2 linked regions of the Homo sapiens genome follow. The protein of the gene in region 2 interacts with the protein of the main gene of each other region in a pairwise test. Each region holds a gene or a part of one and is shown on either strand. Other genes may lie near its edges.

The links. The genes of interacting proteins can lie anywhere in the genome.
Region 1: the proteins of DRC4 (region 2) and ZNF212 interact in binary tests that used the Homo sapiens proteins (3 or more experiments, as listed by UniProt).

The regions. Positions count from the first base shown.
Region 1 is NC_000007.14:149,249,258-149,252,878, forward strand, and holds part of ZNF212 (zinc finger protein 212), read left to right. Parts: intron 1-901; coding exon 902-1,291; intron 1,292-1,423; coding exon 1,424-1,550; intron 1,551-3,448; coding exon 3,449-3,538; intron 3,539-3,621.
Region 2 is NC_000016.10:90,035,835-90,040,121, reverse strand, and holds part of DRC4 (dynein regulatory complex subunit 4), read right to left. Parts: intron 3,742-4,287; coding exon 3,536-3,741; intron 2,891-3,535; coding exon 2,723-2,890; intron 2,361-2,722; coding exon 2,274-2,360; intron 362-2,273; exon of another isoform or gene 1-361. UniProt on the Homo sapiens protein: Component of the nexin-dynein regulatory complex (N-DRC), a key regulator of ciliary/flagellar motility which maintains the alignment and integrity of the distal axoneme and regulates microtubule sliding in motile axonemes.

The DNA.
Region 1 (3,621 bases), on a different chromosome or scaffold from region 2:
ATTTATTCACCATCCCAGCTGCTAGAGTGCAAAGATGAATGAATTAGGTCTTGTAGGTCCTGCTAAGGAATTTTGTCTTTATTGTGGGGAGCCATTGAAAGTTTTCAAACGGGTGACATGATCAACTATGAAGTCTGGCAGGGATGTGGAAGCAAGATAAGATGTAAGTGACATCTTTTATCATATAGTCCAAAACATTAAATAAAAATAGGTTTAAAAATGAACACTGATACAGGAGTCTCAGAGAATATGCTAAGCATAAAGCATAGGTAACAGAACATACACGCTATAATTTCACTTTTGTTGAAAAAAAATAAACTAAAAGATGAAAAAAAACTTTAGAAATACACCAAAATTCAAACAGCTTCTTTCTTTCTTTTTCTTTTTTGAGACAGGGTCTCACTCTGTTACTCAGGCTGGAGTGCACTGGCACGATCTTGGCTCACTGTAGCCTCAACCTCCTGGGCTCAAACCGTCCTCCCACCTCAGTGCCCCAAGTACCTGGGACTACAGGCATGCATCACCATGCCTGGCTAATTTTTTGAACTTTTTTGTAGAGACAGGGTTTGCCTTGTTGGCCAGGCTGGTGTCAAACTCCTGAGCTAAAGTGATTCAGCTGCCTTGGCCTCCCAAAGTGCTGGGATTACAGTTGTGAGCCACCACGGCCAGCCCTAACAGCTTATTGTGTGTGAGAAGATTTTGTGTAATATTTTCTTTCTATTCTTCATCATTTTCCAACATTATTAATACAATATCTATGTATAATTTTTAGTATCAATAAAAGACATGCTTTTTTTTAATTAAAAGAAACTAGATAACTCTGAGCACTGATACACTTGAACACTGCTTTCTTTACTTGATGTTTGGAAGTGACATTGACCCTGTGTCTTTAATCCATCAGCACAGGAGAAAACGACGCTCCACACCTTTAACTTCTTCCACACTTCCTTCACAAGCAACAGAGAAAAGCTCCTATTTTCAGACCACCGAGATTTCACTCTGGACGGTGGTGGCCGCTATTCAGGCTGTGGAGAAGAAGATGGAGTCCCAGGCTGCCCGGCTACAGAGCCTGGAGGGGCGCACGGGGACAGCCGAGAAGAAGCTGGCTGACTGCGAGAAGATGGCCGTGGAGTTCGGGAACCAGCTGGAGGGCAAGTGGGCCGTGCTGGGGACCCTGCTGCAGGAGTATGGGCTACTGCAGAGGCGGCTGGAGAACGTGGAGAACCTGCTGCGCAACAGGAACTTCTGGATCCTGCGGCTGCCCCCGGGCAGCAAGGGGGAGGCCCCCAAGGTAGTCTCATTGAGGATTAAAAGTTAGAAGAGAAGGGGGAGCCAGCCCTTTAATATGTAAGCACCTCAGTTGCTGGCTTTTCTGTCATAGCTGTGAGTAGAAGCACTCATGGTGTGCCATTGGTGATTCCAGGTGTCCAGGTCACTGGAGAATGATGGCGTCTGTTTCACCGAGCAGGAATGGGAGAATCTGGAGGATTGGCAGAAGGAGCTCTACAGAAACGTGATGGAGAGTAACTATGAGACACTGGTCTCTCTGAGTGAGTAGCAGTTTTCTCCCTAGAATTCTGTCTCAGACATACTACAATTCCTGGCTGGCAGCCTGTAATTCAGACCACACCTGTGGCTCCTGTGGCTGTGGGTCCTCTGTCGGCCTGCACGGGCAGAGAAATGCCAGTCTCTAGGTCCTCCCATTTACAGACCTGCACGGGTGGAGAAATGCCAGTCTCTAGGTCCTCCCATTTACAGAGACTTTTGGAAAGCTCGCAGCATTGTGCCTTTTGTGTTTTTTTTTTTTTTTTCCTGTGGTCACATAGTCTGTTCTTGATAGTATTTTCTAATAAATAAAATGTCATATACCCTATAGTGTGATATGGCTAGGGTTCCTCATGTTGTTTTTTAATTTATTTTATCTTTTTTTTTTCTTTTTTTCTTTGAGACAGAGTCTTGCTCTATTGCCCAGGCTGGAGTGCAGTGGCACAATCTTGGCTCACTGCAACCTCTGCCTCACAGGTTCAAGCGATTCTCCTGCCTCAGCCTCTCGAGTAGCTGAAATTACAGGTGACTGCCACCACGCCCAGCTAATTTTTGTATTTTTAGTAGAAATGGGGTTTCACCATGTTGGCCAAGCTGGTCTTGAACTCCTGACCTCGTGATCTGCCCACCTCAGCCCCCCAAAGTGCTAGGATTACAGGTGTGAGCCACTGCGTCTGGCCTGTTTTATCTTTTTTTTTTTTTTTTTTTTTTTTGAGACTCTGTCACCTAGGCTGGAGTGCAGTGGTACGATCTCGGCTCACTGCAGCCTTGACAGCTTGGGCTCAAATGATTCTCCCACCTCAGTTTTCCGAGTAGCTGGGATTACAGGCACATGCCACTGCGCCTGGCTAATTTTTTAAATTTTTTGTAGAGACGTGGGTCTTACTGTGTTGCCCAGGCTGGTCTTGAACTTCTGGGCTCAAGTGATCCACCCACGTCGGCCTCCCAAAGTGCAGGGATTACAGGCGTGAGCCTCCGCACCTGGCCTCTCATGCTGTTTTTAATATTTAAGACTATTTGAGATGGGTGTGGTAGCTCACATCTGTAATCCCAACACTTTGGGAGGCCAAGGTGGGAGGATAGCTTGAGGCTAGGAGTTCGAAATCAGCCTGGTCGACATAGTGAGATCTCTGTTGCTTAAAAAAAAAAAAAAAAAAAAAAGATGATTTGATAACCCTATGTTACCTTGGATGAGGCAGGCAGCACAGGCTGATCAAAAGCATTTTCTTGGTGTTTGGCCGGAATTATAGCTGGTCATTGTGGTCTCAGTGATTTTTTCTTGTTGATTAGGAGTGCTGCTTAATAGATATAAGTCTTTATATGCAAAATGTTACCTATTACATAATAAATGTGTTTTGTTTGGTAGACAAAGTCTTTTAAAACCTAGGTACATGGAGGAGTGTCAAGTGCCTGGAGCAGAGTAGGAGGTAAAGGAAATAGAAAATGGGCCAGAAAAGTGACCTTGTAAGCTTGGTTGGGTCACATGCTCTCATTGTGACTGTTTCCTTGTCTGTCCCAGTGCCCATCTTACCTTGCAGTGCCTTAGCAAGGATGAAATTAGATCCCCTGAAAGGAAGCATTGGCAAGACTTAAGCTGCACGCACATGGAGAGGCAGAGGTGGGTGGTGGTGCCATCAAGGGCAGTGGTAGCTCTGTAGCCTGCCTGCCTGAGCCACAGCCCCTCTAATGGAGGAGCACTGGAGGCAGCAGCTAGCCAAGTCAGTTGTTATGATTGGCCAGAATTTTATAATTGTCCCAAACTGCTAGGGGAAACTGACAAGAACAGTAGCCTTTGAATCTATATTTCCTCCCTGCCATTGGTCATCTTGGTCACTGGCAGCTGATCAGTGTGCAGTGAGCTTTCACTCTCTCCTGGGCTCACACTGTGCTGTTTCCCACCCAGAGGTCCTTGGCCAGACAGAGGGAGAAGCGGAGTTGGGTACAGAGATGCTGGGTGACTTGGAAGAGGAAGGTCCTGGTGGTGCCCACCCAGGTGAGTGGCTCTGGAATATTCTGTTCCCCTTCCATAGCCCTCTGTAGCCTAGAGTGAGCTTTCCCACGGCTGAAGTGCCAGGT
Region 2 (4,287 bases):
AGCCATCCACGCAGTGGAAGGCAGGAGGAACACATCAGCATAAGCCCTTCTCTCAGGAAGGTGTCTCTGGAAGCCATAAGTGTCCTGGTAAGAGCTGAAGCAGCCCCACCCTGAAAGCTGCTTCATGGGTGGCCGAGGCCAGTCTTGCCCGAGTGAGGGCTGTGGGCTCAGGTGAGATTTGAGATCCAGGGCATCCAGCAGGCCGAGCTTGCAGGTGGGGCCCCTTGGAGGATATGCTCCCTTGGCCAGCCCCAGATCCTGGCATCACATGTGCTGTCCGCCCCACAAATGGTGGATCTGGAGCACGGCCTTGGAGCCAGCTACCTGCCAGCCAGTAAAACTGTTCTTTTTTATCTCCTAATTCTTCTACTTATTAATTGTGCATTCTAAAAAAATCTAGACTTTGTTGAAGACTATAAAAAAGTGAACACCCTGAGCAGCGTGTGGTGGCTCACGCCTGTAATCCCAGCACTTTGGGAGGGTGAGGTGGGTGGATCGCCTGAGGTCAGGAGTTCGAGACCAGCCTGGCCAACAGAGTGAAACCCTGTCTCTATCAGAAATACCAAACATTAGCCGGGCGTGGTGGCAGGCGCCTGTAATCCCAGCTACTCGGGAGGCCGAGGCAGGAGTATCACTTGAACCCAGGAGGTGGAGGTTGCAGTGAGCCGAGATCGTGCCATTGTACTCCAGCCTGGGCAACAAGAGCGAAACTCCATCTCAAAAATAAATAAATAAATAAATAAATAAATAAATAAATAAATAACTGCCTTGGTCTCTAAATTTTGCTGATAAATTTGAGCTCTCGGTTCTCTAGGAAGAGACACCAGCTTGGACACTGTCAGGAACCACATTCAAATGGAAGAAAATGTGACAGAAAACAAGGCTCCAACCCAGGCACGTCTCTGCTGTCCTCTTCCCAATAATGTCCACCTCAAAACCCACAGGGAGAAGGAAGGGCCCCTTGTCTAACACAGCAGTCCTCAGGATCTCACTGACTACCTTGCAGGTGCCCTTCCCTTAGGTGCCAAGAGTTGGCACAGCCTAGCAATGCACGTCGTGCAGGACCTGAGGTGTCTCTGAAGGTGGGGCTAGATCTGACAGACAGATGGGATATTTCTGAGAAGCGAATCCCACTACAACGGTTTGTGTTCAAAAATTTCAATTAGGTTAGAGAACAAAACAGCACATATAACTGCGGCTCAAGATAAGATGCCCTGGCCCCGCACACCACAGACAAAGCCTTGAGGGGCCCATGCTGCAGGGATTGGTCCTTGGCCAGAACTTTGAAACTGAACAGAGGCAAGGAGCGTCTTTAAGGGACAGAGACAGGACCGAGCACCCCTACCACTCACTGCGAATCTTGGAAGTGCCCACGAAATGAGATGTTTTCCACCCAGTCACTTCTGCAAAGGTTTAAACCTGTCAGATCTGGTGCAGGTGAGGATGGAAACGGCCCCTCCGCACCCTGGCAGGTGTGTGACTCAGAGCAGCCCTCTGGACAGATGATCAGGGTCCTCAGAACAGAACCCTCAGACTCAACAATCCCACTGCTAGGAACTGGCTTTCCTAAGAAGCAATCTCACACAAGTGCACAAAGACAAATTTAAAAGGATTGAGGCAGCAATGCTTATAGCAGCAGAGCATTAGAAACAGACGGGAGTCGGCTAAATGATCAAACGTTCACAAAACGCAGCACCAAGCAGCTGTGAAAAGGATGAGACCGCTTCCTATGTGCAGCCTGATACACTGTGAGATTAAAAAGCAAATTGTGCTTATGGCCTGATCCCGTGTTCGTAACATACAAAGTCACATCCACACGAGAGCATGCAGGAAACCTGGAAGGGAGCCCATAAAACTCGCCAGTGTGAGGACCAGCACTGAGCAGCCGGAGACTCATCTTCACTTACACTTAAGAGCCTCCCTCATGTGCTTTCAGAGGTGAGCTCTCGAGGGGACGAAAGTCATGTGTGATCCGTTCCCCATCAAGACCCCAGGCCTTCTGCAGAATATGCATGCAGAACAGGCCACAGGTTTTTGCCTCTTAGAAGCTGCGGAATGAGTTACAGGGAACAGGGCCTCCAGCTTCAGAACCCAGAAACCTGGCCAAGGCATCTGAAGCTGGTCCAGGGGCCACAAGGAGAGCCCCGTCCCTGGCTAGCAGGGGTGCCATCCCCACTGCAGGGCCAGCCTAGTGCCCGCTCACCTTGGTGAACTTGGTGAACCGTTGCTCTAACACCCACCGCCAACTGCAGGGCCAGCGTGGTGCCACTCACCTTGGTGAATCGCTGCTCTAACACTTCATGCTCCCACTGCAGGTCTTTCAGCTCTTTCTCCCTGACTTTCAAACGGGCTTTTGTGCACTGGAGGAAAAACAGGGAGTAGGGGACAGAAAGTATTCAAGATTCACAGTCATCCAAGTAACACGGGCTCCTGGGAGATGGCAAGGCCAAAAATAATCGCCAGAAAGACCTGGTTCCAGGACACAAGCAGCTGAGTCTCACCAAGGCCGGCCGGTAGCACGTGGTGAAGATGAGGGCCTTGTCTCCAAAACACCCCCAGACTTTACTTTCCCCAGGAGAACACGAGGCAGAGAAAGGAGAAATGCAGGCCTCCCCGTCTCCCTTCCTGCCCTAAGGGCCAAGCCCCTCCCTGTGATGCTCCTCCCTCCTGAGCCTAGGCAAGCTCATGCCAAGGAGGGAGAGGAATCCAGCGGGAAACTCACAAGCAGGATCTGCTTGTCCCTCTCGTAGTTTGCGAGCTGTTTCTGCATCTCGCTCATCTCCTCCCGAGCCTTCTGGAGAGGGTCTGCCAGGCGCTTGTTCTGCCCAGACACCTCTGCCATCTCCCTCTCCAGGTGGTCCTCCTTCTTCCGCATGTCCTCCATCTGCTCCTGCAGGCACAAGCACAGGCCCGGCAGGGGCTCAGCAGGCAGAACCAAAGGGGCTGTGGCCTGCATGGTGAGAGCTGGGTGCTCTCCTGCCCATCACCAGCTGCTGCCAGCCTCAGGCATGCTGGCACCTAGACGTCTTCTATGTATAAACAGTATTTCTGCAGCTTCAACTTATTCTGAGTTTTCTGGGAATGCAGCTTCCATGCAGACTGAAGGACTATACTTTGTTCAAGATTCCACCAAGGGCCGTTGTCTACTGTAGAAAATCCTGTCACTGCCAGCATGCAGTGACGATGACACCTATCCACCTGTCGCAGGCAGTGACTATGACACCTATCCACTCCAGCCACATCACGGCCCTCACTGCGGTTCCATCTGAGCTTTTACAAACCAGAACACACTTCATTACTTCCCCCTCTGCACTACGGTGAGGGCAATATCCTGACTGCTTTTAACAATAGGTAGAGATAGGTTACGTTATTTAGGAATTTCAGTTAAGGATATGAGAGGGGCATTGTCAAACAATCTTATAAAAAGTACTGGGTGTGTTGGGGTGGAGAGCTGGGGTCTGGATCCCCAGGACTCTGCAGCCCACATTCTAGGACAGGCAGAGTGTGCCTCCCCAGCCCAGCCCACGCACAGCACCTTGAGGGAGTTGATGAGGGCCAGGTTGTTGAGGGTGATGTCGTTGTAGTAGTTCTTAATGTCGGTGAAGGCCTCCTCGTGGCGCTGCATCAGCGTGTGGATCTGGCCATTCTTCCTCTCCTCCACTTCGTGGAGCTCAGTCTTTCTCCGCAAGTCGAGTTCGTCCCTCAGCATCTTCATCTTCTTATCATACTTGGCCTCAATTTCTGAAAGGCAGCAGCAAACAGCAGCTTAGCAGAGGAAGACGTGGTGCCCCTACGGCTACAGAACATGGAGCCTGTAAACGGGCCCAAAACGCCCACTGTGGTCAGAACAGCCTTGCAGGCAAAAGCTCTGCAAGAGAAGAACAAAGGGGTTTAGACTGAGTTTTTCTGCTGATGCTCACACTCAGCACACACACCACTGTCGGCCTGCCTTTGCCAGTGACAGGCATTGCTAATCGCTCCCTGCACTGGGGGTGCCAACAGCTGAATGTCAGCTGACCCCAGTGAGCAGTAACCGAGGCCTGTGTGGCCACCCAGCCACAATCAGCCTTTATTAGTAAAACACAGAGACTTCTGAAATTGGAGCCTTCTCAGACCAGGAGCCATGGAGAAGACTATTTTAAGAAGGCTGCCCACGGCACTGAATAGCTACCACCTGCTGATAACTACTGATTTTAGCTAGGAGTGGGAATGTGTGTGGTAATCACAGCCTCCCAAACTCACATGGAAATAGGTTGTTCTGGGATTCTGAGTGGGTCCACTGGCCTT